Regions from separate parts of the Homo sapiens genome. Here region 2 is linked to region 1. The links come from fine-mapping of genetic effects on plasma protein levels. A gene starts in region 1. The other region holds a variant in brackets. All regions are shown on one strand. Distances are between the middles of the regions.

Region 1 (14,332 bases):
GGAGCCATCCCTATTGATTCTGCATTTAACAGGGGCAAGGAGCAGCTGGACCACACACTGTGCCACCACACCTTCATTCTTTAAGAAACATCCCTTCATGGCCAGGTCACCCCCGGAAGTGAGCATTCTTCACCTCTTCTGTGGCCTGGCGCACTGTGCAGAGAAGAATGCTGAGGTACCCTGGGAGACATGCCAAGGTCACACCAGCAGGCAGGACACATTAGCTTGTCCCAGGCTGCAGTATCAGTTCTCAGCAGCATGGCAGGCTACAGAGAGAAGTGCTGAGCTCACTGTCCTTGGGTGGTGTGGCTCTCCTGGTGCACATCACAAACAGCCCAACTGAACAGCTCCGGGGATATCAGCCCTCCCTGGCCCCCAAGCCTCCCTCCCTGTAGGCCCGAGATGTGCAGAGCAAGGGCTGAGAGGTACTGGCACTTCGGTGGGAGGGAGGGAGAGCTGGCAGGTCTTGGGTGCTGCCCTGCTCCCCCTCCCTTCCTGGGATAAAATTAGAGTGCTGGGGTCACAGACACAGTCTTCCTGACTCAGCTCCCGTAACTCCCCTTCCACCCGCAGCCCAAACTGCAGCCACCATCCTCTGTGGCCCAGCCAGAGATCCAGACAGTCTGCCGCCCCAACTCCCCTCCTGCTCCCCTCCCATCCACCGATAGCCAGACTGGCAGCCAGGAAAAGGTGCGTGTCTGCATCTAGAGATGCTGGGCTAGGACCTGAGATCCATAGTCCCTGGGAGTCAAAGCAGAAAAGTTCTAGCCGTCAGACTGTGCTAGCCACCTTCATCAGTCACCTTAGCCCCACTCCTGCACCAAGGCCACAGGCCCAGGTCTCCGAGGGGGCCGGCAAGGCCAATGTACAACTACTCAAGGGAAAAGAGGCACCAGACAGGACTCTGGGTGGGGGCACCCTGGTCTAGGAATTGCAGGGCTGTTGAAGAGAAGAGGAAAACAGTCCTGCCCTGGGGAGTCGAGCCTGATGGCAGAGACATGACTGGGTCCTGGAGAGCAAGGTCTGAGGGGGAGGTCTGGCCCTACCCTGGGAATACATCTGAGGGGTCAGACAGCCACACCACAGAAAACTTCCACAGCTCTCCAGCAAAACTGTCTTAGCATGGACCCCAGGGCTGCCCACAAAGTATCTGCTGAAGACATGAAGGGAGGGTGAGGGCTGCTGGCCCCTGGGTAGGAGCTGCAGCACTAGGGCCCGGACAATCCCATGCGGATCTGCAAGCCTGAGCCCAGTTCCCTTCAAACCCTAGCCACAATGGCTAGGGTGGAGGAAGCAGGGACTGTTCGTCCCATTTTGCAGGAAAACGAACAGGAGCCCAGGACCACGGCCTCCCATGACCCCCAGGTTCCTGGCCCTCCCACCTCTGTTCTTGGTGATGCGTATGGACTAGAGGGAATGACACCAGCTCAGCCCCAGGACAAGGCCTTGGCCCATTCTCCACCCCAGCCCCAGCCTGGGCTCCCGCACCGCCTGAGGCCCTCAAAAGGCCTGATTGTGCCCGGGAAGTGTCGAGCAGCAGCAGCTCGATGAATACATGAAAGGAAGCTTTGTTCAGGTTGGCAGGAGCGGGGGCTGGGGGCTAAGGGGCAGGAGGGCTGCCTGGAAGTGAAGGCAGCACCAAGCCATCAGGGCCAGGCCTCGAGTCTCTGCCCAGGCAGGGGCTGAGCAAGGCCAGGGGCTACCCCTAAAAAGGCCAGGCCAAGGGAGTATGTATCATATCCCTGAACATTTTCTTTGTGATGCTTTATGAACCCAAACGGAGAGGTGAGGTAGATAAAAGCTGGATGGGCCCTGAACAGGCCGGGAGGGAAAGCCAGGCAGAGGACGCAACCTGAGCAAAGGTGGGGAAGGTGGCTGTATGGAGGACAGAGGCCATGCGCTGCAGCCTGGCAGAGTCCTAATGAGAAGAATCGGGAAGGTGAGCTGAGGCCCACGTGTGATGGGGGAGGGAAGATGCAGCCTGTCCAAGGACACACTGACCCACTGCCCACCACTCTCCCCTGCTGCCTGAACCTACGAGCAGGGCCAGGAGTGGAAAATGCCTCCCCATCCTCTGGCGTCCCCCACCTCCTGGCTCCCCCTGCTTCCCATCCTGCTTGTCTAAAAGGAGCACCGTCTGGCACCGTGTCCCCCCCTCACTCCCCAGCCTGACGCATTAGTGGCTAAGTGGTAGCTAAAAGCTCCCAGAATAACCAGGGGCTCAGGTAGGGGAGGGGGCTAGGGACATATGGGGAGGGCATAGCCCAGAGGCAGGCCAGGAACAAGACAACCCACCTCCCGCCCCATGTGATTCCGAGCCAATCCTCACTCGTGCTGGACCAAGAAAGCACATTCAGGCTGCCCCGTACCCAGCCGGACTCCATAGTTCCCCTGAGTACCATTTCTCATGGTGGCAGGGCCAGCAAGGCCCAGCTCCGGCCAGATAGGAGGGCTGCAAGGATGGCTGGGTTGTAGGAGATAACCTCCACCAGACACAGCCGCAGGGCCGGGTGCTCACAGGGCTCTGATCCCATTGGAAAGAATGGGGCCTGACTCCTTAGGGACCCTACCCTCGATCACCACCCCAGCAGCTGACCGACTGTGGCAAGTCTGGGCCTCTGGCATGCATTTCCTAACTCAGGCCTGCCTGGTGGAGCACGTTTCCTCTTCTCATTCACTCTGGTGCTGTCACCGTCTGGCCCGCTGTCCCCATACTCTTGTTGTTTGTGAAAGAGGAGTGCAGCTCCAGGGGAGGGCAGAGTGGGAGGTGTTGTTGTCCATGAAGGGGCTGGGTCCCATGCTCTGGTCTGGCAAAGCCAGCCTTGCAACCTGACCCACTGACCCAGTGGGCCTTGAATGTAACCTCAAGGAGCCTTTTGAAAGTGGGCAGAGAGTCAGGCTCTGAAAATGGCAGGAATGTGGGCACCCCCACAGAGAATGCCTAAGTCAGGCAGTCAGAGAGGCCCCGGGCCAAAGAGCAGAAAGCAGGCCGACCTCAGGTTGGAGAGCCAGCACATCTGGCAGGAGCGTCCTCCCACAGTTGTGCCCCCACCCCTGCACTGCCAGGCCTACCTCACACCCTCGCCCAACTACGTGTCTGGAAAAGAGAGTAGAGGGAAGGCCCACGTGATGCCTAGGAATTAGCCTGCAGCCTCTCCACCCTTTGGAATCCCACATCCACATGTCAAGGTGGAAGGGAGAGGATCTAAACAGTCATTGAACTGAAGGACACAGAGGCCAGAGAGGCTGTACCACCGGCCCAAGGACACAGAGCGAGGGAAGCTCCAAGTTTCCAGTACCCATTACCCAGCTGCTTCTCTCCAGGATCACATCCTGGGCTTCCTGGAGAGCCTCTGATTTGCAAAAAGCTGTATATTCAGCCTCTCCCTACTTCCCTGAATCATCCCTACTCTACCCTTCCCTCTCTTGCTCACTAGGTGCCGAGTCACTAACCTGATAACTAAAGGGAATCACCCGCCCACCCACCTTCCAGGTGAGGCCCTGATCTCCTAGGGGCCTTTAGTGATCAAAGCCTTAAATCCAAAGGAGTGACTAATGGTGGAAGTGTAGGTGCCGTGCATGTCAGAGTGGTAGAGGAAACCCTTCCACTAGGGGTGGGAATACAGGAACAAATGTTTCTGTCTCTCCTGATATGGCCAGGAAGAGGGTGTGAGAAGCCTGGTTTCCAGGGTGGCACCGGCTCGGTGCTAAGGATAGGTCATGGTTGCAGGTGGGTCCTGGCAACTCTCAGGCAGGGTTAGGTTCTAGATTAGCTAGTCGCCTGGCAGGGGCAGAGCCTGTGTGCTGGGGCAGGTGGTGGGGCCTCGAGACAGCACTCAGCTCATGGAGGACTGAGAAGTCTAACTTGTTTATGAGCTATGAGAAGAGCGAGCTGTGTGCTGGGCCAAAGGGGAGCATCCTCCCACCCACCAAGGTCAGCTGTGGGTGGGAGGGGAGTATATCTCATGTGTGGCTCAGCCCTGGCTCCAAGAAGCCTCATTATCTCTTTGGTGGCTGGACAGCTGGCTGGCTGTGACGGTGATTGGGGCTGGGCCTTCCTGGGTTCATTTTCCTCCCTGTGGATTAGCTGGGTGCGAGTCAGGGTGGGTGCTGGTACTTGTTTGGGCCTGGGTTTTATGACCCACCAGGATTCTTGAAACAAATCACAAAACAATCAGGGTGAAGTCCATGGGTCTTTTTGGGAAAGTGTGACTCTCTGAGTGCCAGAGAAGTCAGACAGTTTTCTGGAAGTGGAGGCAGCAGAAGAAACTGACATTCTCATCTGCTTCCACTGACCAGCCCACCAAACCTCCAGCCACCCTGCAAAGAAGGCAGGACAACCTGTATTGCCGTTTTACAAACAGGAAAACTAATGCCCTTCCAAGCCACCAAGGTCTGGATGCTCTCCCCATGGCACCACTGTGCTCAAAGGACCAGAAGAAGGTTTGGCTATTGGGGAGACTGTCTGGGGCAAAGTCCTAGGGAGAAGGGACAGTGTGGAAAGCAAGCCCCTTGGTGAGAGGCTGTGCTGAGCAGGATTCAGGGACTCAGGGAAGGAAGGCTGGCACTGAGGCCCAGCTGGAGTGGGTAAGATGCCCTGAGCCCACGCCCAGGGAAGGCCGGAAGCCCAGGACAAACATCATGTCCCATCTACCTTCCAGCTGTTCTCCAGCCCAGCAGGTTCCAAAAGCCCCAGAGTGGGGCCGAAGTCGCTGGTGGCTCCTTCAAAGCAGACAAAGGGTAGCGGTGCAGGGCCTGCCCTTGGGCCCACAGCCAGGGCAGGGGTCGGGGAGAGGGCGGAGAATGGCTACACAACCCCAAGTGGAGGGAGGGAGGCAGGTGGAAGACTGCTGAGAAACAGAAGGTTCCCCAGTCTTAGCCTTAGCCTGAACCAGCAGGGGAGACTGAGCAAGGGCAGCCAGCCAGCAAAGCCCATTAGGGAGAACTGGCAGGGGCTGGGCTGCCAGGGCTGCATTCCATCAGAAACCAGAGATGCCAGAGGAGGAGGAGGAAGATGATGACGACGATGATGATGCCCCTACCACCCAACCCTTCCATCGCATTTACTACGTGCCAAACACTATTCCAAATGATTTTTAGATATATTAACTCATTTAATCATCACTGAACTCTCATGAAGTAGGTTCTTTTATTATCCCCATTTTGCAGATGAGGACCATGAGACACAGAGAAGCTGAGTAACTTACCCAGCATTACACAGCTAGTAAGGGGTGGAGCAGAGGTTCATACTCAGGCAAGCTGACTCCAGAATCTGTGCTTATAACATCGTATTCCAGAGATGAGCCCTTGGAGGCTTCCAAGGTCAGCCCTTCCCAGACAGATGAGGAGACCAAAGCCTACCGAGGGTGAGGCCCAGTTAGAGGCTACTTGGCTAATGAAGTCCTGACCTCTGCCCGTAACACCCTGAAGACAGTGTGTGCAAGTGAGCACAGGTGTGCAGGCCCAGGTGAATGTAGTGAATTCCTATGCTTTGATGTTGCCCTGGCATCCGTTTTGAATATAAGCTGGGTTTTCTCACACTAGAAGCAGGGCTCAGTCAACCTTGACACCGTTTCCAGCTCCCCACCTCCTCCCAGTTCCTCCATGTGCTCAATCCAGATATCTACCGTAGACAGTCGTCTCCTGGTGACTGCTTCCCTGTGGGATGGCTACATACAGCCCACTTGATTGGTCCTGCTGACCTTGTCCCACAGCCCGCATGGACTGTGCAGATAGGCCAGTGACCTTGTCTCAAGTCACAACATGACCTCCTGGAACTCATGACTGCTTGCTGTAAACCCACCAATTAAAACTCCCCATGGAGGCCAGGCACAGTGGGTCATGCCCATAATCCCGGCGCTTTGGGAGGCTGAGGTGGGCAGATCATTTGAGGTCAGGAGTTCGAGACTAGCCTGGCCAACATGGTGAAACCCCATCTCTACCAAAAATACAAAAAAATTAGCCAGACATGGTGGTGTGCGCCTGTACTCCCAGCTACTTGGGAGGCTGAGACAGAAGAATCGCTTGAACCCAGGAGGCAGAGGTTATAGTGAGCTGAGACCACGCCACTGCACTCCAGCCTGGGTGACAGAGCAAGACTCCATCTCAAAACAACAACAACAACAAAACAAACTCCCTGTGGAAAACTTGTTTTAATAACACCATGGACCCCATAAAGATGCTGGCCCATAGATCCCCCCACCCTGCACATGCTCCCTGACCTCCACCTGTGTGTGGCTTCAGGTACACCAGGTATCCCTCAAGACCTGTTAGTAACAAAATCTTTATTTCCACCTGCCTCTCTCTTAATCATGGAAGAGGTGCTCTCCATCTTAAAGATCCTAAGTTACAACAGTGGGGCAGGAATCTTCTCGAGGTGCAGCGTGGGGCCCCGGTCCTGAGTGACTGATTAGAAAGACAAGTCTCCCAAGATCTCGCTCAGAACATAAAGTACTCTGTGGGGCCGGGTGCCATGGCTCATGCCTGTTATCCCAGCACTTCGGGAGACCAAGGCAGAAGGATCACATGTGTTCAGGAGTTAGAGGCTGCAGAGAGCTATGAATGCACCACTGTACTCCAGCCTGGGAGACAGTGAGATCCTGTCTCTAAGAAAAAAAGTACTGCATGCTCTGAAGCTGACCACAGTGAAGGGCAGAGTGTGCTCACCAGCCAGGTCCCCACTCAGCCAGCCCTGGCGAAAACACTCACCTCCACTCCTCAGCTCAAGGACCCACCATGGCTCCTAACTGCCCATCCAAGCAGGGCCCAAAACCTCAGGGCAGGGCAGTCAAGGCCCACCTCATCTCTGCACAGCTCTGCCATGGCTCATTTCCATCTCTGCACTTTGCTCCTGTTCTCCCCTCCCTGGATTGACCTTCCTCCTTTTCTCTGTGCACATGGATCTTACCTGTCCTTGAAAATGTAGCTAAATCCCTTGGATCCAGGAAGTATTCCAGACTGCTCCAGCCCTCACTGCCCGTACCTTCGACCTTGTACCACAAACCATCTGGCACCACCATCTTCGCTCAGATCATGCTGTCTGATGGGATTTCATCTGGCCTATGGGGCCCTGAAGGTGAGGACCAGGCTTCCTCTTGCTCCAAGTCTTCCATTCCCAGGGAGCAGCTCAGACAGTGGAGAGAAGCAAGACTGGGGCAGGCCAAACTCCCATGCCAGAGGGACAGGTATCTTAGAACAGATTCCTGGGCCACCAATGGAGTGCAGAAGTCATCACAGTGACCTTCCTTCCTCGACAGGCTGGGCCAGAGCTCCTGCCTCAGCCTCCCAAGTAGCTGGGATTACAGGCGTGTGCCACCACACCCAGCTAATTTTTTTGTATTTTTAGTAAAGACGGGGTTTCACCATGTTGGCCAGGCTGGTCTCGAACTCCTGACCTCAACTGATCTGCCTACCTTGGCCTCCCAAAGTGCTGGGATTACAGGCGTGAGACTCTGTACAAACAACAATATGAATAGCTGTCTATGCTGCACTCTGCCCCCACCCTATGCTCCTGCCCCTAGCTCTAGCCTGGCTCCTCCTCCTCCCCCAGGAAGCCTTCCTTGATTGCACCATCCCACACTGACCTTTCCTGCTCTCACCTCCTGTCACAGTCCTAGGCTACATCTGCAGGTCATTCCTGACCTCCCCAGGGGTCCGCCCTACTTCACAGGCAGAAGACTCACCTCTCCAGGAATGTGGGGGCTCCCCAAGGGCAAACCCAGGGCTTCTCTTCCTGCCTCTCCCCCAGAGGAGCCGAACACAGACCTAGGCTGGCTGCCCTCCATGATGAGGGGTCACCCAGGGGTGCTGGCACAGAGCCCAAGCCTCTGGCTGGAAGCATGGGGTGCAGAAGGCATGGCAGGATCAGCATAATCCCAGGCTGTCATGACAGTTAAAACCTGATTAGCCCGAGCCGGGACACAGATCAACCTGTCCTTGGGACCTGAGGCCCAACCCACCTGAGGAAAGACCAGAAGAGGTATATGGAGCTGGTCCAAATCCAAGGTCCTGAAGAGAGGACACTCACAGCTGGTGTGGCTCCTGGGAACAGACAGCACTGGGGCGGGAAGAGTCTGGGCCCAACTGGGCTAGCAGAGGAGGAAAGGCACTGAAGGGGCCCCCAGCCTGGGACAGAGTATGATGGCAGACAGAAAGCTGGAAACAGGCTGAGAGCTGGGGCAGAAGCAGGCTCAGACGACTCAGCCCCGGTCCCAGCTCTGCCTCTTTGGGTGATCTCGGGCCAGTCCCTGTCATCTCTGAGCCTCAGTTTCCCCATCTGTGGAATGTTTGGCTGGCCCAGCTAATCTCTGACATTTCTTTTCTGACATCCTAAGCTCGCGCTGTCAGGCTGTGTGGGTTGGGGTCATCCAAGAAGGTTCCTCAGAGGAACTGAGAAAGAACCAGCAGCCTCCTTTCTGGGCAGAAAGGAGGAGGAGGGTGAGTGGGGTGCAGAGAGGAGGCGGAGCCAGGGAGCAGTGAGGGAAGAACTGTGGGAGTCTAGGAGGCAGTGGGGCCAGGCCACCATGCAGGGCCTGGGGAAGGCGGCAGCTGTGTGCCATGTGTTCTGGATGGGGTGCAGCATAGGGACAGAGGTCCTCCGGGAGGCTGGGCACAGATCTGGAGAGATGGCAAGGCCAGGGCCAGGGAGAATAAAGGGCTTGGAGAGCCACCCCATACCATTCGGGGCAGAGAGGGGACAGTCCCTCAAGGCCTGGCTGGCTAGGGAAGGGGGAACTCTGTCCTCTGAGGAGGCAGGGCCCAACAAGGTGCCGTGGCCCTCCATCCCCCTGCTTTCTTTCTGGCCTGCCTGGTTCCCTGAGGACAGGACAGCTGGCCATACACCTGGTGGCTGGCCCTCCCTGCAAGGGTACGGAACCCTGGCTCTTCTGAAGGCAGGACAGGTTAAGGGCCCCTTCCTCCCCCAACCATGGCGAAGGAAGGCTCCTGGGGCAGCCACGCTGGGCCAAAAAAGGAAATCAAGAGAAGTGGAAACTTTTCAGTCCAGAGCTGCCGACCAAAGCAGGGGAAGTGCAGTCAGTCTCTTGTGACAGAGCCGTGTGAAGCTGGGGGTGGACAGGCTATCAGCTAGTGGCCCATCTACTCCAGCTACTGCCCCCTGAGGGCTGCCAGACCTGCCCCCTGGGCTGAGCTTCACATCCCACCTTGCTTGGCCCTCCTCAAAAAACAGAGCCCAGCTTTCCCTGCTTCCCCCAGGGCGCCACCCTCAGCCCAGATAGTGACCTATCCATGCCACCCCCACCCTGCCACCTCCATGCTCCTTCCATCTCTGCAGAGGAAGAGCAGGAGAAGACAGAGCTGAGGGACAGACCTTCTCACCTGGAGACTGTCCTGCGGTCAGGAGTCAATGGGGAAAGCCATGGTCTCCCTGGACCCAGAGCCAGCCTCCCACCAGGGAACTGTGACGGGGCTATGGCCTTGCCAGCACTCGAGAGGCCTTCCCTGCCTGCCACGGCCCTTCTCCAGTGGGTGCGTCCTTCCTCCTCACTGCTGCGCCAGTCATAGGATGACAGGTATCCCCTCACCTATGCCCATCTGGACAAGTTTCAAACTTTTCGGGAGCCCCCAGGCCCAGGCTGACTCAACGCCTCTTCACATGGGGGCCCCTCACATGGCTTCTCTCCTCTCTGTGGTCCTAGCTGTAAGTTCTTGGGTTTAAAATCCTACTAAGTGGGGTGCTTCCTCCTGTTCCTTCCCTCCCCCAGCTGGCTCCTCCTCCTGCCATTTCAGCTTGCTCCCTCTTCCAGGAAGCCCTCCCTGATTGGGAAAATTGGGTTAGGCATCTCCTCAGTGCCCATAACTGCTCTCTGTTACACATTCTGTTGTACCTGCAGGTTTATCTGCCCATCTACATCTACACTGAGAAGTCTACAAGGGCACGGAATCATCTTGTTCCTCATCACCAGATCCCCAAGCTCATCCCCAAGACCAGCACAAGGGTGGCCCCGGCAAATGTTTGCTGAATGAATATGTCCACCCTTGAGGGCACATGCTGATGATCCATTTCCTCCAAATGATCCTCAGCCTTTGGCCCACGAGAGAAAAAGATAGGAAAGAACGCGAACTTAAGGGTTTCCCCTGACTTCCCAGGTTTCAATTTCTCCTCCAGATTTCTCGAAATCTAAGATTTAAACAGGCCACCACAGACTCTGCCCAGCCCCTCCCATCCCAGAGAGAGAGAAATCCTAAGACATTAAATCTCAGAAAAGGATGAGCCCCCTCCCCTACCCTCTTTGGGCATTTGGGGAAACTGGGGTTCAGTAAAAGGCAAAGACTTGCCCAGTCACAGAGCAAATTAGGTCACAGCCTGAACCAGGCTCCCGACCTCCCAGCTCTCTCCCCTATACCATGGTCATCATTGGACCTGTGCCAGCGTCCATTCCACCGGACCTGCTCTCAGAATCTTCACTGTCCAGGACAGAGGGGTCACAGAGCTTGGTAGGAAGCTCCTGGTGACCTCACCAAGCATCTCTCTTGGCTTAGGAAACTCCCCCTCTCCTCCGGGGAATTGCCCCCCCACCATGAGACTCTGTGGAGGGAGTTCACCTTGAAGGTGATGAACACATCTAAGTCCCCAAGGGGGCAAGGATTTCCACTGGAAATGCTGATGCTTGGGAAGCCCCAGATGTGACCTCATCCCCTGGAGGAGGTAACAACAACCTCCTGCCCTGGGGAGCAGCCCCAGAATGGCTCCCCAGCAGCCACCAAGTCAACAATAACATCCCGTTGTTTCACTGGACAAAAGCGAGGGAGGGCAGAACCAGCCGGGCAGGTTGAGACTGGGGATATGGGTTCTGTTTCCCCATGGACAGGCTGGTTCACCTCTGACCTTGGGGTTCCAAGCCTTCTTTAGCTCCTCCAACCACTGATAAAATGGAAGAGGGGTGCACAGCTTACAAACGCATGCCAACCTCCTGCTAAGCCCCAGCCCTCACCTGCAATCTACTCCCTTACAGTTCCTGCTTACAGGAAGATCAGGACCACACATGCACATCCTTGACTGGCCCATGTGTCAGTGACAGCCCTTGGGGGACAATCCCTACAGCCTTTCTTGCTCTGGCAGGCTCTAAGGGTCAAAGACAAGTGTGGAGCTCAAGGACACCCAGCAGGTACATGATGGCCCATCTCTCTCCCTGGCCTGAGCTACGCTGTGCCAGACTTTCATCAAGCTGCAGAGGCAGCAATCTCCCTGATCAGTGCAGGCTGGGCCCCTCTCAGAGTTCCCTGCTTTAATCTTTCTCTAGAACTTGGGGATCCAAGCAGCAGAAAATAAAGAACTTTCCATACCTATTCCAGTCCCCACAGCTGTCCTGACTCAAAACTAAAACCCCCATCTATGCCTCATAGAGAAATGGCTCCAGAACCACCACCATCCCTGATTTTGTCATTCCTGGATACCACCATACTCCCACCCACCACTGGTAGACAGAGCTCTAGGCTTCCAGAAAGACCCCCTCTTACCCTGTTCCTGGGTTTGTCCTACCCAAGCCCATTCCTGTCCGATTGCCATGTGTCACCCCACAGGAGACAGGAGGCAGCTGTCAGTCGGGCACACCATCACCAGCTGGTGGCCCTGGGGGTGGGGGGCAGGTGAATGGCAGGGCCTGTCTGGCCAGTGGGGCACCTGGCACTGGTGAAGGAGACCACAGACTGTCGTTGGACAAGACTGGTGAACGGTTGGCAGACCCCAGCCAGCGGGGCTCAACAGTGCATTACTAAGCAGAGGGCACAGCCAGTGTGGCTACAGCAGTGAACTGCGGGCGGGGGGGTAGGCCATGGAGCTGTGCTGGGAGCTTCGAAAAGTGGGTAAGAGGACTGAAAGCAACTTTAAATAGCCTCAGGGTGGGAACTAAGTGCCCAGGATGGGATGTATGCATTAAGTGCTAAGAAGTGGGTGTGCATTAAGTGGGGTGGGGGTGGGGGGTCATGGGAAGACTTTGGGACAGGCAAACAGAGTCAAAATGCAAGGGGTTTGATGGAGGGAAAGATTCCAGAACACTCAGATGTGGCCATTTGTCCCCTCCAGAGTGCCCACACGCTATGATGTCCAAGACAGCCAAGGAGACTGAGGGAAGGCAAAGCTGCTGGGAGGGCAAAGGAAGCTTGGGCTGGAGCTGGGATGGCAGAGGGGTGTGCAGGCCTCCTCCATGTACAGGCGGCCGGAGCTCTAGCAGCACTGCTCGGCTTCCTCCAGGAGCACCTCAGGCTGGGTAGCCGAGCTGGTCCCCAGAGCACCTCATTCATGGTCCCTGAACCACCTAAATCCTTCTCCCCTCCCTAACCCAGAACCTGGACTGGTCCTGTGCCAGATCAGAGCCCCTGCCTGCACCTGGGCTCCCACACTGCTCAGTGACCTTGGGCAAGTCACATTCCCTCAGCTACTGCGGCAGTTCGGGCCACTCGTTTTGTGTATGGTTTTTTTTCCCCTCTGCTAATAATACCTGCCCCAGATAATGCTCAGACTCCCGCAATCCCTGCAAACTGCCAAAGGCATCAAAAGGCTCCCGGTGGGGCCAGACCCGACCAGTTCCCCCAGCCCCCACTGCGAGTCCCCCACCATCACGACAGGGGGGCCGCAGACACGCCAAATTTGGGGACAGAGCCGAATCGGACTGGGGGCGGGGAGGCATTTGTGTGCAATGCAGGGGAGGGGAGATCAGTTCCTCGCGGCAGAAAGCCTCAAACCCCCGCCTAACCGGCTTTCTGTCCCATAGTACAGGGTCTAAACTGAGGTGCCCTGGGGGAGACTCCAGTCCCCCAGGTTCTTATTATCTACCCTGGCCTAAAGGCTGCACCCCCGCCCTAGATCCACCGCCTGGGGGTCCCAACGGCCGTGCCCCACCCAACGGGCACTGCCCCCCAACGCTGGAGCCGATTTCTGGTGACAACTGCCACGTGCGGGCAAGGGGGGAGCGGCCGGTCCCGGCATTGCTGAGGCAGCGCCCTGGTACCCCAAGCCGCCGCACCGCACCATGTCCCGCCGCTCGCTGCAGGATGCCCACCCCCTTGCCTGGCCCGAGCTCCGGGCCGGGGCGGGGGCGGGGGCAGGCGGCGGGGTCTTTGTTCCCGCTGCCGAAGCGCGGCGGCGGCGGCAAGGGGTCCGCGCCCCCCTTGCCGGCCCAGCCTGCGCCCCGCGCGCCAGCAGAGCCCGCAGCTCAAAAGGAGGGTACCCGGGTTGGGGTCCCAGGCGGGGAAAGGTCCTCCGCCGAAGCCCCCGAGCCAGAGGACCCAGAGTGGCTCGGGGCCGAGAGAGGGGCCCGCCCCCTCCCCTGGCGCCCGGGCGTTGCGGCTCCTGGCTGCCAGGGACTTGGTGCGACTTAGCCGGGGCTCCGGCCCCCGCCGCTCGCTCGCCGCAGCGTTACAGCCGGCTCTGGTGTGCCAGCGTGTACACTCACACACACTCACCCAAACCCACACGCTCCACGCGGGGACAGCGCGGGGACAGCCCGGGACCCGCAGAGCTGCGCGCACGCACTCCCTCCGGGTGCAGCACACTCCGCACCCGCCCCGCGCAGCGTCTGATCCCGCGCCTGACCGGCCGCGCGGCGCCGCCTACCTTTCCAGACGGCGAAGATGCGGGGTCCGCTCCTTAGGTGGCCCTGGGCGGAGGCGGCGGCCGCCCAGAGCAGCAGCAGCAGCCGCAGCCGCAGCGGAAGCCCCAACCGAGCCGGCGGGCCAGGGACGCGGGCGCGCGGTGCGCTGGGGGCGGCACGTCCGGGCGGAGGAGGCGTCATCCCGTGGCCCCGGGAGCGACAGCGGCAATCAGCCGAGACTGAGCCAGCGCCCGGCCGCAGGCAGACCCAAGCGCCAGGAGGCGGAGCCAGCGCTGACCCCACCCCGCCCCTCCCCCCGCCCCTCGCAGCCTTTTCTCGCCTCACTGGCTTTCCTGAGCGAGAGCGGAACTGCTGGGGGAACCTTCGCCACCCTCTCCCGGGCAACTCTACGGGGAAAGCCCAGCTGCGGACAAGCCAGACTTGTGGTCTTCTGCCAGGGGCGGCAGGCCCTATCCCCTCTCTGGGCCTCAGTTCCACTCCCCGCACCCCGTAAAAAGATTGGCGTAGAAGTCGTGGAGGACCTCTCTCCAAGGGCGCAGAGGAGTCCAACACCCAACAACCTTGCTATGGCCAGCTAAGTGGTTCGCACCCTGAGGACTATGGTCCTCGGAGGATGCGTTCGCCTAAGTGGACACGGCTCCCTGCTGAGCCTACCAGCAGGCACAACGATGATATGTGGGGAGCACTCAGGGACCCGCTGTTGCTTTGCCTGGGAGAACACTGGAAATTTTTCATCTTGGCCTGGCTCCTTCCCCTCCCTC
Region 2 (15,880 bases), 160 kb before region 1:
CTCTAAGTGGAAAGATCCTCCAATCTATCTGTTCAAGCCCTGCCTTCTCCAGGTTTAGGGTCAGAAACACAGGAACCCAGACTTTGGCCACCCCATTCAGATGACTGTCTCTGCAGAAGCCAACTCCACACCTCCTGTTGCATAAGACTGGGCTCCTGGATTGGGAAGAGGTCACTGGGTTTTTCAGAGCTTCCAGGAGTGGAGGCAGGCCTAGCCTATGGCCTGGGAGTCTGGCAGCCTCTTGGACTTCTGGAGGATGGGGGAGGCAGGCCTCCCTGGCTCAGAAGTTGGCATGGAGGAAGCAGGTTGAGGAGAATTGCCCTACCTTCTCAGGAAAGATTGAGACCCAACCATTACACCTTGACAGCTGGCCTGCAGGACTGCCAGTTCCCTCACCTCCCTCTCAGTTTCCCAGGTGAGCCAGCAATGGGTTGTGATGGGCCAGGTCAAAGGTGCCCAATACCTCCTATTCCACCATCCATCCACTTAAAGGTCTGCTCCTTATCCACTATTCCCAGTGCCTGCCTGACTTCCCCAGTGCCAGGGGCTTCTGGGAACATCACTCTAGTCTCTCAGGATTTACAAGCCTGCCCAGCCAAGACCCCAGCAGCCACAGCAGATCTGAGTCAGGGCCCTCCCCTTTCCTTTGCTCTCTTGGTGGCTGTCCTGGGATTGGCACTCAAAACAAACCAGGCCGCCTGTGCCCCAGCTTCTAAAGCTCTGCCCAGGAGGCGGCCAGGTCTTGACTATTGTTCATGATTTGAGGCTTTGAGGGAGCCAGAGGCCAACAGGACAGGCAGGGCAGGTGGGGGAGGTGGGCTCAGGTGTGAATAGAAGACCCCAGAGGCAGCCTGAGGACTGGGTAACAAGAGTGGGTACAGTATGGTACTCACACCTCTCTGGGCAGCCTTTGTGCACGTGCATGTGTGCATGTATGTGTGTGTGCATGCATTTGTGCGCATGTGTGTGCATGTGTGTGTATGTATGTGTGGATGTGTGTGTGTGTCTCCTGGAGTGAGGGGGAAAGCGGCTCATGAGCACTCTTGCTTTCTGTCCATCAAATCCCATGCTTTTCCGATGCTCATTTCTTCCACTCACAGCTGCAGCCCCCGGGAACCAGATGACATATTTTCCCTTAGTCATGACCTTGCAGAAGGAAAGCAAAGTCCTTGTTCCCTCCCACTCACAGCTGTGCTTGAGCCTGGCCCCCTTACACCCTGCTGGGGTGGGGGCCCCAGGAATGCCTAGCTGGGGACTGGAGTTTGTCAAAGACACACACACCCTTCCAGCAGCCTGGAGGGTAGGCCAGGTTGAGGGAGGTTTATGTTTTCCTGCAGCTTGGTCTCAGGGCTGCTGCACTCTAAACCCAACTCCAGTCCTATCCTGGCATGGCTGCCCATGCTGTGGCTGGATTAAATCTGGCCCCGAGACAGCAGGCACCACCCACTAGCTCCTCCTGGCCCTGGATGCCTGGAGCCAACGGGTCCAAGTCAACAGGGCAGGTCTTTGGGGGGACAGGGAGGGGGGTCTCTCCTTGCAGACAGCCTGTGGAGAGGCCTAGGGAAGCAGGTCTTGGTGAGGTCCCCTGGGTTCTAAGACTGCATTGGGAGCCCCGAGAGAGCCTGGGGACCTGGAACTCAGCCACGTGCCCATCTGCGGGGTGCAGAATGGGGCTGGGAGCAGGGAGTGAGCTCATCCCCTGCTCCTATTCTGTGAAGAATCAGAGGCCCTTCTTGCTCTCCAGATTCTAGAATAGCATCAAGACCCGGAGGAGTCAGCTGTGCCAGGAAAAGCCATTACCCCGAGAGCCTCCCTCCACCTGCTAAAAGCCTCCCCCTTCCCCTGGGGCCTCCCCCTCCCACCCAGTTGCTTTATCTGCACTCACCTAGCCCTGATGACCTTCATATTAGATGGGGCAGGGAGGTGGGGAAAATAGTTGCTTAACTCTTTCTCTGCTGGAGGAAAGTCAGCACCTGCTCCCTTGCCTTGCCCCGTCACCTTTACCCACCTCTTTGCACCTGGGAATTCCTCCTGCCACCCTCCCAGGAGGGTTGGGAGGATACGAGGACAGTAGAAGACAGGCTGGCATGGGGTTCAATCTGAATCCTGTCACTATGTTGCCTGTGACTTCACACCTTCATTTGTGTCTTCTCTGTGCACACAGAGCCACATGAAGATCCCTGGGAATCCCCCAGGAATGTGTCCATGCAGGTGCAGTTTTGTGTCCAGCTCTGGGGTTGACATCTGGGTGCAGAAGGACTGACTTCTTCCTGACACACCCTTGGCGCTTCTGCTTTTCTGCTGTTTCTGTGCAGGTCCCTGAGGAGGGAGGCTGTGAGGCCTTATTGTGCACTAACTATATATCTATAAGTAGCAGATCGGGTGGCTGGGTAGCACAGGGAGGCTGCTGAGAGCCTGAGGTCTCTGACTTTGCTGGGGCAGCTGTCAGGAGCGGGAGCCTAGGCACAGAGCGTCATGGGAGGTACTTAGATTGCACCCCTTGGTCAAGCATGGTCACAGAGCCGGAGGGAAAAAGGGACCCGAGGGTGGAGGGAGCAAGCTGAGCGCCACGTTCCTGCCAGGCTTCTGCCTTCCCTCTCTAGCCTGGCAGCCTCCCACACACCACTTTGCGGGTGTGAGGAGTCCATTCTGCAGAGCCTGCAGGGGTGTGTCTGGATGGACGCTCATCTGAGAAGGACTCCGGCTCTCTGGGAGATGCCCCTTCTCACCCCAGCTTGTACTCAGTGCTCCTTCCCCTTCATGCTGCCCTCAGGCAGGTCCTCTTGCAAAAACACCCAAGCTGTTTTGTATCACAAATGAGGGAATAACATGAACTGGGGCTTTCTGGATGCCAGGAGCTGAACATGCTTTCTTTCCAGTCCTTATAACACTCTCTCAGGGCGGTACTATTGAAAAAGGAGGAACTTAGTAGGTGCAGAGGGGAGATGATCTCGCCAGGATAAACGCGGGCTCCAAACCCAGCTCTGAATCATTCCCAAGCCTGTGCTCTTTCCAGGATTCCACACCTTGGCCCGAGCAGCCAGACATTCCCAATTGTAGACCCAGAACTGGGGGCATGATGGGGAAAAATCACGCCACGGCAAAGGGGCTGGTCACAGGAGGGTCAATAAGGCTAAGCTCTCTGGTGCTATGGGGTAATAACAGGAATCATATTTATATTTTAATAATTTAAGGTACTAAGAATTATTAACACTTTCTTGGTACTTAGCAATGTGCCAGGCACTACACATATTCATTCGTTTCCTTCCCACAACCGCCCTGCAGGCTGGGCACCGTTAGCATCTCTGTTTTATAGATGAAGAAAATAAGGCACCACAGGTTCTGTACCTTGCCTAACATCACACAGCTGGCACGGGGTAGAGCTGGGATTTGGAACCCAAAATGCCCAGCTGCAGGGTCCTTCTTACAATCACTGTGTCATACTGCCTCAGTCAAAGCACAGCAGGAGTCCTCAGTTGACCCCTGGAACTTGGAGATGGAACTCCTGCAAGCATGGTCACCCACAGAAGAAGGGCTCCTGCAAGCATGGTTACCCACAGGAGCAGGGCTGTGATGAGTGGGAGCAAGGAGCCAGGTCACAGCGTCACTTAAGTCTAAAGGGCAGAGGGAACAGTGAGGGCCGGGGGACTCCAGAGGGCTTCTTGGAGGAGAGGAACAAGCTGGGCTGGGAAGAACCATGTTGGTATTGCTAATGCACAGAGAAGGTGGGGTCTGAGCCAACTGGCCTGCCCCACACTCCCTTTGGGGTCCTTGAGGGTGAAACAAGGGCTGGTGGGGATGACGTCTTTGTTCCCATCCTGGGGTACCATTAGTGCGTCTTGCCTCCCTCCGCAAGGTGTGTGGTGTGGCTCCCCCTGCTACAGGATCTCTGGGATGATTCCTCAGCCCATGACTGCTGCAGTTAATGGAGCAGCGCTGGGGATGGCCCTGGCCTAGTAACCTCTTCTACAGAAGAAGTATTCACTCTCTCCCTGAGCCGTTTGACGGCTCTGGATCTCCGATATCTGTGGGGTGCACTGGGATGCAGAGGGCCCAAGCTTACCTCTCACCTTATACAGCCTGGTCCTGAACAATCTGAGTGCTTGAGGGCTGGAAAGCCCTTTCCACCACCCCCTGCCCCCAGGCCTGGACCCAGCTCCAGGTTTCCAGCTCCAGGGGCCCAGCCCAAGGCCCTGCACACAGCAGGCATCTCAGAAGGCAGCAGGATGTGCGTGCTTCATTGCAAGCATTTAGAACTGGGATTGCCGGGTGGAGCCTGGAAATCTGGGCCAGAAGTTTAGGGAAATAAGGTGAAGAAGAGAGGACAGCCAGGCGGGGCATCGCACAGCCACTCTGCCCAGAGGATTCCTCCCACCGAAACAGAACCTAGAGAAGAGGGAGGCCATGCACACGGGCTCCTGCTGGAGAGCCCTCCCTGGCAAGGGCTAGGAAGTCAGGCGGGCAAAGCATCTACCCTCTACCCCCATCCCTACCCCTGCCCTGAGCCTCTCTAAGTGAGAGGCTTGTGACTAAGTGAAGGCCTCAGTAGTGGCCAGCGAGACAGTGTGGTCACCTGGGCTGGCAGGAGAGCTGGGGGAGAGGCCTGGGATGACACAAGTGTCTATGCATGGGACAGAGCTCTCCATATTCTGTCCACCTTTCACTCAGATTTATGGACAGTGGAGCCTGGGATGGGGACAAGCAGCAGACAGAACCCCTCCCTTTGACTCACCCTGCCCCTGCTCTCCCCAGGAAAAGCACATCTGAGGAAAAGAACAATCAGAGCTCCAAGGCAGTCACATCTGTGACCTCAGAGCCCACCAGAGCCCCTATCTGGGGGGACACGGTGAATGTGGAGATCCAAGCTGAGGATGCAGGGCAAGAAGGTAAGCAGGGGCTGGGCAGGGCCGGCATGTGCAGGCAGGGTGTGAACACAGCCAAGGACTTAGAGCAAGAAGCAGGCTCCCTCTCACTGCAGCTGGTAGCCACCTGAACACCTCCTTGGGCTCAGTTAAAAGCACTTAGAAAAAATCATAATACTGTCACGCCTCATCTCCCCATCCTGCTCGAAAAATGAGTTGTTCCACATAAATGAATTTTCCAGACAATGCAAGCTTATCTTTTTTATGACTGTTGTTATTATTTTCATGGCTGTTATTAGCGCTGTCTCCTACTGAAACAGGACATTACAGCTTCCTGGCACGTCCCCACACATCACTCATTGGAGTCACCACCTCCCAGGAGGAGCAATGCTGCTCCCATTGCTTAAGAGAACATCGAGGTTCAGGGAATTTAACTGGCTTAAGCTTAAGACCAAGGACCAAGGACTCAGCATTGCATGTTCTTACTGCAGCTCCAGGGTTCCCGCTGCTTCCATTTGATTTTTTAAAAAATATTTGAAATGTCCCTAGAATGGATCCCTATTCCTGCCTAGTCCTCCCCAGGTGTCAGCCTGAGCCACGAGGTGCCCATGTACACACATGCATGTGCACACTTATATTTACTTTCACACTGTGGGTCTGTTGGATTTCCATTCTCCTGGGGGAGCTCAGGCTGGACACAAGGGAATACTGATTGGCTGATGCCCGGGTAGGGGGGCATCGCATCTGGCACTGCCAGCACAGACTGGAGGTGCCTGGCGATGTCTCTGATCTTATCTAGTCAGGACCTCAGACTTGCTTCTTGCAGGTGGTCTCTCCCTGAGAGGACAGGCTTTGCCTCTCCCCCTTGAAATCTTGCCAGGACCTAGACAGATCTCCTTGTTCTCCTCACACAGAGCAGAAAGCCAGCTGAAGACTATGGGAGAGGAGAAAGGAAACAGGAAGGGGAGCCTCCGTAAAAGGGGAAGGAGCTAGTTCTAGGTCAAGCCAGATAATTTTTCTTTTCTGCCTGTAAAGGGATAGGTGGAGCTGTTGGGATGCTTTAAGAAGATGCAAAAGAGGAGGAAAAATTGACCTAGGATTTCATGCAGAGGCACATGCGTGCCTGTGTGTGCATGTCTTTGTGAATGCCTGCATGCTGGTTCATGCGCATGTGTGAATGTGGTGTGTGCTGTGTCTGTACTTGTAGGCATGCATGTCTGTGTGTCTTATGTGTGTGTGCGCGTGGGTGTGTCTAGCTGCAACAGTGTGGTTATATGTGTGTCTGGATGAATCTGGATGGTGGTGTATGCCTTGCAGTGCACAAGTATGTATAGATCGTGTGTGTGGCTCTGTGTGTATGCATGCATGTATTTATGTGGCTGGTGGGAAGTTAGAGGTTATGATGAGTGGACCTGAGCTGGGATCCTGCCCTGGGCTCTACATACTTGGGGTAACAGAGGAAAAAATGTAATAAGGTCAGTGACCCCAGGGCCCATCTGTGCAGCAGAGAGAGGGGCAGGACTAACTGCAGGAGGGACAAGAGAGTGGGGAGGCCTCATGGGCAGGCAGGGAATATTGGCAGGCATCTCATTGCAGATTGAAGTAGCTGGATGCTTGTTGGAACCGGTTGCTGTGGTGATGTCTGCGGTGGGGGTGGGGGAGATGGAGGCCAGGCCAAGAGGCGGGGGAAGGGTGGGAGGTAGCTCAAGGATGTGTTAATGAAAAGCAAAGGGGAGTTTCAGACCCTGTGTCAGGGCCAAAGCAGGCGGGTGGCAGAAATAGCTTGTTGGCCACACAAAGGGAACGGTGGGAGGCCGGAAGGGCACAATGCCCAGAGAGGAAGCTGATGAAGTGTGTTTGTAGCATGGAGACAGGAGCAGGGAGGAGTGGCTGTCCATTACCCCCAATTCCAGCTCATCTGCTGGCTGCCCACACAGAGCTCCAGGAATAGCGGGTGGGGAAAATGTACGGCACTCACCTCTCGTTCAACCTTGGCAAATCCCAACTGGATCTGGGGACTCTTGGTCCATGGCGAGTTGGCATAAGGGGCTTCAGCCTGCACAGCTCCTCGTGGTGCTTTGGCTGGGAGCACTGGAATCTCCCAGTTGAATTTCCTCAGGTCTGCCTACATCAGGGTTTGTGTTTGGAGAGCTGCAGATGCTTAAAGAGAAGGAAAATAGTGACAACCACGAGGAGCATTTGCACAGAATGTTACAGCTTGAAAACACACTCTTCTCCCTACAACAACCCAAGGGGAGAGACAAGGCTTTTTATTAAAGTGTTGACATTTTGAAGAGCAGAAACATGAAGTTCAGAGAGGTTAAATTACTTGCTAACAGTCACAGAGCAAGTTAGTATTCTGGTACTAGAACCCAGGTCTGCTGACTTCATATCCCTTACCTCAATCTCCCTTCTTCAAGCCAACCTCAACACCTTCAGTGCCCTCTCCCCCTTCTTTCCTTTGAGCATGGATCCCATATGACAAGCTCTTGAGATACCTTGGCAAGTGTTCAGGGTCGCTGTGGGGAAGACAGAGAAAGAAGAATACTTAATAAAGCCCTCAGCTTCCTTCTCCACCCCAACATCCAAATGACCCATCCAGTTCCAAATGACCCATCCAGTTCCAAATGACCCAGCGGCTGAGCCCGCTGAACCTGCTGAGCCCTCAAGGGCCAGCTGCTGTCCCTGGTGCTGAAACCCCTTGTCTCAAGAGAAGCAGAGGGCAAGGGTCTCCCCAAGTGTTTCCCTCAGGCACACCCCTCCGCCCCATCCTCCCTTTCCTGTTCTCTGTTTTGTATCCTTTCTTACCTCATCTCTCTCATTCTTTCTCCATCCCTCCTCTATCCTTCTCCTCCTTTTCTCCCTCCCCATCTCTTCTTCCTCCTGAAATCATAGACTTCCAGAATATAAAGATGCCTCAAGTGTCACCAAATTCAACCCTTCCTATCATCTACTTTCTAGATGTGTTATGTTGATCAAGTTATATAACCCTCTGAGCTCCATTGTTCATATTTTAAGAACAGAGATGATGATACCTACCCGGGGGGTTGTGGTGAGAATTTGTTGGAATCATGGCTGAGACATGCCTGGCACATAGTAGATACTCACTAAATAATCATGACAGTCCCGCTCACTAAACAGGACTGTCATGATTATTTATAGGACATTGGTGTTCTTCTTAAAGTTTTTACCGGCCGGGTGCGGTGGCCCATGCCTGTAATCCCAGCACTTTGGGAGTCTGAGGCGGGTGGATCACTTGAAGTCAGAAGTTTGAGGCCAGCCTGGCCAACATGGCAAAACCTTGTCTCTACTAAAAATACAAAACTTGGCTGGGTGTGGTGGCGGGCACCTGTAATCCCAGCTACTTGGGAGGCTGAGGCAGGAGACTCTCTTGAACCTGGAAGGCAGAGGTTGTAGTGAGCTGAGATCATGCCACCACACTCCAGCCTGGGTGACAAAGTGAGACGCTGTCTCAAAAGAAAAAGTTTATACCAATATTCATGCCATTTTATGAGAAAATATAGTCTCTTTGGAGGGTGTTTACTAAGTGGTGCATTATTCTTAGTATTTAGACTAGTTTTCCCTTACTTGTAGTAGACTTTTATTGATAGCTGTATTAAAGGATTTCCTTGAGCAGATCACTTTTTCTTACTGAAATTCAGTTTCCCCACCTGCAACATGTGTGAGATAATCTCTCCCCATCCTGCCTCAAGAGCTGGCATAAGTGTTTGTGACCAAGGGAAAGAGTCTTATTCCTGGAAAGAGGTGCTATGCCTGCTTGCCTGTGTATCTCAGTGTGTGCACATGTGTGTCTGTTGCCACAGGGGACTGGACTCAGTTCTGTGTGTGTCTATCTCTGACCTGGGAGTTTCTAGACCATGGGAGAAAATTGCATGTTGGGGTCCTAACAGCTGCCGGCATGGAGCTTTGCCCTGTGCAGGGGCTCAGACTGTGCTTGTGGGTTTGTGTGCACAGGGGTGATCCACACATGTGTGTGCATGTTGATTCCTCAGTGTGGCCCCTGCTCCCTACTCTCAACAATGTCTCTCACCTCTCACTGTCTCTCCTTACTGGGAGAGAAAGGGATCCATTTAAAAATAAACCTGGGCTCATTTTTTCTCTTTCCAGATGTGATCCTCAAGGTGGTGGACAACAGAAAGAAACAGGAGTTGTTGTCCTACAAAATCCCCATCAAGTACCTGCGTGTCTTCCACCCCTACCACTTTGAGCTGGTGAAGGTGAGTCAGAGGCCTGGGGAAGTGCCGGGAGAGCAGGTGGGAACCACCTTGAATGTCCCCAGCTATTCCCTCGGAGCAGCCCTGAGCATCCCACACCCACCCACAGCATGACAAGTCTAGGACCATGTGGGGCTCAGGAAACATGGCTCCTGGTACATACACAGGAATGGTGTCTACAAGAATTTGGAATTCTCCAAATTCATCTCTGTAAAAACAGCTGATTATTATAGGACAACTGCCACATTAAATGAATATACCAATTAAAGATAGATTTTGATTACAAAAATGTTAAAAGAGCGGATCTAAAAATCAAAGAAACACAATATTTACCGAGTACCCGCTGCTTGCACGCCCTGTGCTAGACATTTCACACCCCCTCTCTAATCCTCAAGGTAAATTACATTTTGCAGACATGGGACTGGGACCTGGGGAGAAAAATCTCCTCCTCCTGGGTCACAGAGCAAGTGAGCGGCAGAGTTGAGGGTGAGCCCAAGTCATGCTGTCTCCCAAGCCAGTTCCTTCTGAGCTGCCTCCACATGCTGCCTTGGCCAGAAGGCCCAGGAGAGTTGGGGGGTACATGGAATAAAGCATTCCCTGGAATGCACCCCTGGAGTGAGCAACTGGGTCCAAGCCATGGACTGAGGGGCCTGAGGCTCCTCACTCCAAGGTTGGGCCTCCCAGGCCAGACCCCTGCCTGTCCTCCCTCCTAGTGCTGAAGGGTAAGGGGTAGAATTCACTCTCTCATTGCTCAAGGACTTATGAAGCACCTACTATGTGCCAGGTAGTGAGCCAGAGATGAACAGAAGCATCACATTCCCCTCCCCACTGTGCATTCCAGACCCTGAAAGTGGTTGAGAGTAAAGAACAATGTGAAGCCAGACTGTCGGGGGTCCTAGACCAAGTTTGTTGCCTCCTAGCTGGATACCCATGGAAGCCACTTGGTCCCCAGGCCTCCATCCTCACTGGCAAAGCTGGCACAGTCGTTTTGAGGATCTCAAGCAATGATAGGCAAGGTTCCTGGCATACAGTAGGTGCTCAGTTTGGTCAGTTACCCTCCCCCATCCCTCCTCC[G/A]GGCCAGCACTGAACTTTCTTCTAAGCATTTCTTCAATCATGGCACCAGGGGGCTTTACCTTCTCTTAGGCCCCATGAGGAACCCCAATCCCAGGGCTTCAGGATGGGCCATGCAGGGAAGTAAAAGAGAGATGTGCTACTCACCCTGGGAGACTCAGCACTTGAGCTGTAATTCTGGGGGCATCACCCAGGCCCCCTGGCTGTCTGTTCACTTACAACCCAGGCCTTGTTATCACATCTTTACTGGAAAGCAGACAGGCAGTGGTCCTTGTGAGGGTGATGAAATATTCAAATGGAAAAGGGAAGATTTATTATATTGATCTCCTTGGAAGGGCTCACAGGGACCATGAGCTTTAATTATCAGCTCGGAGCCCCAGCGGAGCAATGCCAAGTGATTGTCTGCAGAGGGCTGGATTTATGGCCAGGATCTGCCCCTTAGACACTCTCCTTCCTCTGTGTCTTCTGCCCCAACCCTGTCTCCAGCCCACTGAGTCTGGGAAAGCCGATGAAGCCACTGCCAAGACCCAGTTGTACGCAACAGTCGTTCGGAAGAGCAGCTTCATACCCCGCTACATCGGCTGCAACCACATGGCTCTGGAGGTACCAGGGCTGGGGCCCTCTGGGGTGGTGGTGGGGGTGGGAAAGGGCCAAGCTTTGAGCAGGCCCCACGCCTTGCCCTTAGCCCCCTCTGGCTGACCTGAGGGTGTGGAGCAGAGATGTCAAGAATGGAAAAAGCAACCAGGCCTTTCCAAAATAGCAAAAGGAGTTGTGAAGACAAGCCCTTTGGCAGGGATGACAAGGATGAAGATGCTCAAGCCTCTTCTCCTTCCCTCTCTGTCTTGGAGGTGGCGGGGAGGGGCTCAGCCACACTGCTGCTCCTGGTGTACCGTCTCTGTGCTGCAGTGGGGACCAGAGCCTGTCTCCCCGAATCTTATGCTAGGGGCAGGGGAGAAGCCCCGTGCTCCCCCTGAGCCCACAGCCCAGCAGTTTCCTGCTCTATTCTTCCCCTCCTGGGATAGTGCCTTGGCCCCCAAGCAAAAGTTTAGGGCCTCCTTGAGCTTTCCTTCAGCACTGTGTCTAAAGAGGTTTGACTGGTCTGGCGATTAGGTATTTAGTTTATTCATTCATTTATTCATCCAGCAACTGTTTACAGAGCCTCTTCCATTAGCCAGGACAGGGCTGAGCCCACCTTGGGCCTGGCCACTGCCCCTTGACCCATCACCATCCACCCCCTAGGCCAATTAGCAGCTTTGGGAGGAACTCTTGATGCTCAAAGCAGACATGATGCAGGGACCTGGCCCCTCTCCCATTCCCCCCAACTTTCAAACTGCCCATGGGTGACAGATTCAAATTCAGCTATGGCCTGAGTATGATCAGGGTGGGAGCCACAGGACCCAAGCTCTGAGCTTCCACCTACCCAAACATGGCTGATCTGTTCCTATCCTTCCCACCCCCCTACTTCCCACCAGCACCGTGGGCCTGGCAGGGAAGGAAGCATTCTTTTGCCTTCTTTCACAGCCAGGGACACTGAGACCCAAGGGGAGTATGGTATGGGAGCCAAAACTCCTAACCCACATTTCTACTCCCCTACAGCCACCCCTCTGATGCCAGCATATCAGACCTACAGGCGCCCTCTGCTCCCCGCCACCTTCTATCACGCCCTTTCCTGAGGACAGCCAGCAATTCACACACACACAGAACAAGGAAGAGGGGCAACAGCCTGGCCTTGCTGTCCCCAGGCCGCACCCCACAGGGAGGAGGCCACATCCCCAAGACACAGGCAGAACTTTAGGGCTGCTGTGGAGCTGCCCCACCCCACCCAGCCCTCTGACTTGCCTGGTAGAGCGGTAGAGTAGGGGCCTTCTCTGGCTCACAGCACCCTGCCCACTCTCCTGCCCCAGCACAGATGCCCTCTCCATCCGTGCGACAGGTATGGCCACAGAGCAGCTGCCTGCTCCTGATGGTGAGCGCATGGCAGGAGCAGGAACTTCTGCTACTTCCCAGGCTGTCATGAGCAGGTGTACTTGGGCAGCTGTCTCATTCACACCTGATCAGAGTCCACACAGAACAGGTGCAAATTAGCTGCCACCACCCCCTTTTTAGTCTTACACCTGCTGGGGAGCCTGTGAGCAATAGGGCCTGCCAGCCTCCAGTGAAATCCCTCAGCCCCAGACCCCAGACCCATCCAAAGTGTGAAATGTACCATCAGAGATTCAATCCTTTGAATGTGATGAAGGGATTCAGTCTCCAGAGCCCTCAGTGAGAGCTGCGAGGCCCTAAGGACTATTGTACGTGCCCATCAGCTCACACCTGTGTGGGGTTAGAGGTGGGAAAACCAGCTGAGATGGGTATTGAAAGAGGAGCCTGAAAGGAGGGTGCGGAGGGAGAAAAGGGAGAATGATCCAGAACAAGCCTCACTCCTGGGCCCTCGCCAGCCACAATGGGTTGGTGGGAGCTGCAGGGAGTCTGAGTAGAGGGATCAGCATGTGCAAAGACCCTGTGGCAGAAATAAGAGGGGTAAGTGGCAGGAGTAAAAGAGTCTGGAGCAAGAAGACAGGGGCTGGGGGCCTGTCGGGAGACACGGCAGAGGGGCTTGTGGGGTGTCGGGCAGGGAATAACGTGACCCAGTTCATTTTTAACAAGAGCACTTTTGCCATCATGTGTCAAATTGCCTGGGAAAGAGGATGGATTAGGGAAAGGAACAGAAGTGGAGAGGCTAGTGAGGAGGCAGAGGAATCGAAGGAGCAAGAGGAATGAGAGCCGAGTGGGAGGTGGGTGAGGGCTGAGGGAGAGTGGGAGCCATTGGTGGATACAGGGTGAGGGTCAGGGTCCGGGAGATCAGGGCCTCTTAGGCTGGCAGCAGAGGCGCATGGGGACAGACTCCCTGTCTCCCCTGTCTGCCTTCCAGTGTCCCCCAGGCCCAGACTGAGCAGGGGGTCAGTGAGGGTTGGAGCAAGGTGACGCTGTCCACTCCTGCTTTGTAACCTCCTGCTGGGACCCCGCTCGGCTCTCTGAAAGCTGCGCCAATAGAAGCCTGGAGTAGAGGAGAGGGCAGTCAGGACTGGGAGGCAGGGAAGCCTTTAGGGGGTGACAGAGGACTGAGGAGGGAACAACCAAGGGCGGTCAGGGGAGTGACAACCGGGATCTGATGAAGAAAGAGGAGCCCAGAGATGCGGATGCTATGATCCTGTTCCAAACCAGTACTTCCTGGGGAAACCAGCAAGGCAGGAGAGCAGGCACCAGGGTGAGCAGTGGAGCAGGCACCAGGGTGATGGGCACGAGGGAGGCAAGGGGAGCCTGGCTGTGGCCGCTGATCTCAGGAAGTTCAGCATGGTCGGAGAAACCAGACCTGGGCTTCCTGTCTTCAGTTTATAAAGTGCTCTCTCACAAACGATCTAATCAGAGACCCCTCACAGCCCTGGGAGGAGCCTCATTTGACTGACAGAAACCAAGGAGCTGGAACACCTAGCCCTACCCCTAGCCCAACCCCTCCCCAGGAGCCAGTGGAGGGGCCGAGGTTAGAACACAACCTCCCTTCCCAGGACCCAACTCTCATCGTACCCTTTCTCCCCAAAGAAACTAGTGTAAGAGATCCATTGGTAAATCCCAGGACAGAAAGCGGGAGCAGTTGCCTCAGCTCGGCAGAGAAGGCTTCCTGAGGGAGGGCAGCCTGGTGCAAAGCAAGAACCGAGTAAGGCAGGGAACAGGGAGAAGCAGGTGTCAAGTGTGGAGGCAGCCATGAGCTCACGGATGGGGAAAAAGAGGGTAGGCAGTCTGGCTGGCTGTCTCTGGAAGGTCCCAAGGCCACATGGTGTTCACCTGCCTCCTCTCCTCTCCTCTCCAGATCTTTCTCCGGGGAGTCAACGAGCCCCTGGCCAACAACCCCAACCCCATAGTGGTGATTGCCCGGGTCGTTCCCAACTACAAGGAATTTAAGTGAGTGGGGCCCAGGTGGACCTGGGTGAGGAGGGCAGAGCAGAGGGCAGAGGAGGGGGTGAGGCTGTCATTGCTGCCATGGGCTGATTCCAGGACCTCCGGCAACCCCTCTACCCCTAAGGCCCTTCAAGCCTCTCCATTGGGTCTGAGGTCCCAGTAAGCTTCCTGCAGCAGACCATGCCTTTCTTTCCCCAGGGAGAGCCCAGGCCCCTGGAAAGGGGCAGCTCAGTCCTCTCCTGAGAGCAAGCTGGAGGGCAGGTGGTGGGGATGAGTGCCGATACCAGGCCTAACAGCTAGAGAGTGTGGGGAGGACAACAAGAGGGGTCCTCATTCCCTGCTCAGGGAACCTCAGCCCCTCCAACCTGCCTCCCTGCCTCACACCCACCACCTCCCCACTCCCCCTCCCACTCTAGCTCAGGGCCACAGGCTCCAGCCAGTGGTTGGCCCCAAAGGCCATCTTGGAACTTCACAGCCTTTAGCCCTGCCGGGCGGAGTCTCCTCCCTCCTCATCCTGGAGGTCTCCCTGGTCCCAGCCACAACTCATCCCCTCCTCCCCTAGACCTCCTTTTGAGTCTGTTGGAGTCACAGTCCTCAAGAGGAGATTCATACTTTGCCACACAGTGGGAAATTCCCCTATGAACGTGTGCTCTCTGCCACAGCACCGACTCCTGGGAGTCAGGGTCTGTCTTGGTCACTTCCAACTGGCCCTGATGGCCCAAGATGACTCCCCTACTTCTCTGTATCTCCTGTTGAGTTTTTATGACTTATGAAGCCCCCTTGCTTGTTGGAGGAAGGAAGATGATTGATGCACGCCCAGCCCAGTGGTCCCCACTTGTCGTGAGGTCCAGGCCCGAACTCGGCGGGATCCCTGCAACTCCCTTCTCTTGCATCAACCCAGAGTCTAAGCGGGGGGCCCTGGGCTGCCAGGCTCAGGTGCAGAGCCCAGAGCACTGACCCTGTCTCCCTGCCTCCCCAGGGTCAGCCAGGCTAACAGGGACCTGGCCTCTGTGGGGCTGCCCATCACCCCACTGTCCTTCCCTATCCCGTCCATGATGAACTTTGACGTGCCTCGCGTCAGCCAGAACGGATGCCCTCAGGTATGTCTCCTCCCCAGTGGTTCCAGCTTCCTGTAACTACCCCACACATTCACTGTTCACTCACTCAGTGAGTCAGTCAGCAGTTCCCTTGACTATCGAGTAAGAGTTGACTGAATCCCACGGCATACCCAGTGCTGTGCTCGCCTGTGCGGCAGAGAAACTGCCCTCCAGGAACTCTTGGTCTGGTGAAGATGGGAGTCACGTGGGTGAAAAAGTTGAACATCAACACAAGATAATGTATAATCTAATAACAAACTGGGAGGGCCTGTCAGGGCTATCACATCAGAGGAGAAGATACAAAAGGACAAATATATGATTCCACTTATATGGGATACCTAGAATAGGAAAATTCAGAGTCAGAATGTAGAACAGTGGCTACAGGGGCTGGGGAAAGGGAAGAATGGGGAGTTACAGGTCATAAGTACCTAGTTTCCGTTTCAAGTGATGAAAAGTCCTGGAAATAGATAGTGGTGATGGTTACACAACAATACGAACAAATGAATGCATTTAACATTACCGAACTGTACATTAAAAATGGCTACAATGGTGAATGTTGTGTTACGTATATTTTAACCCAGTAAAAAAATTTTTTTTGAGACAGAGCCTCGCTCTTGTCTCCCAGGCTGGAGTGCAGTGGCGCAGTCTTGGCTCACTGCAACCTCTGCCTCCCGGGTTC

The links. PIP is the posterior inclusion probability: the model's chance that the variant is causal. Protein levels are from the aptamer-based SomaScan assay of Sun 2018.
Region 2: its variant is fine-mapped to the plasma level of the SEMA7A protein (Sun 2018, PIP 0.95).

Annotation. Positions count from the first base shown.
Region 1 is chr15:74,420,168-74,434,499 of GRCh38, forward strand. It overlaps SEMA7A (semaphorin 7A (JohnMiltonHagen blood group)), which reads right to left and starts at 13,791. Exons shown (of 14, transcript NM_003612.5): 1 at 13,574-13,791. The coding sequence starts at 13,751. RefSeq lists enhancers at 1,426-2,057, 2,761-3,055, 8,845-8,934, 9,555-9,634, 9,675-9,774 and 1 more and silencers at 12,954-13,073, 13,224-13,373, 13,424-13,933.
Region 2 is chr15:74,257,688-74,273,567 of GRCh38, forward strand. CCDC33 (coiled-coil domain containing 33) reads left to right here. Exons shown (of 19, transcript NM_025055.5): 3 at 4,753-4,886; 4 at 8,991-9,100; 5 at 10,655-10,771; 6 at 14,016-14,107; 7 at 15,084-15,204. Among named protein-coding and RNA genes, the nearest start is that of CCDC33, 29 kb to the left of the region's middle. RefSeq lists enhancers at 5,614-6,446, 6,447-7,277. The variant G/A (reference allele first, on the strand shown) is at 10,172.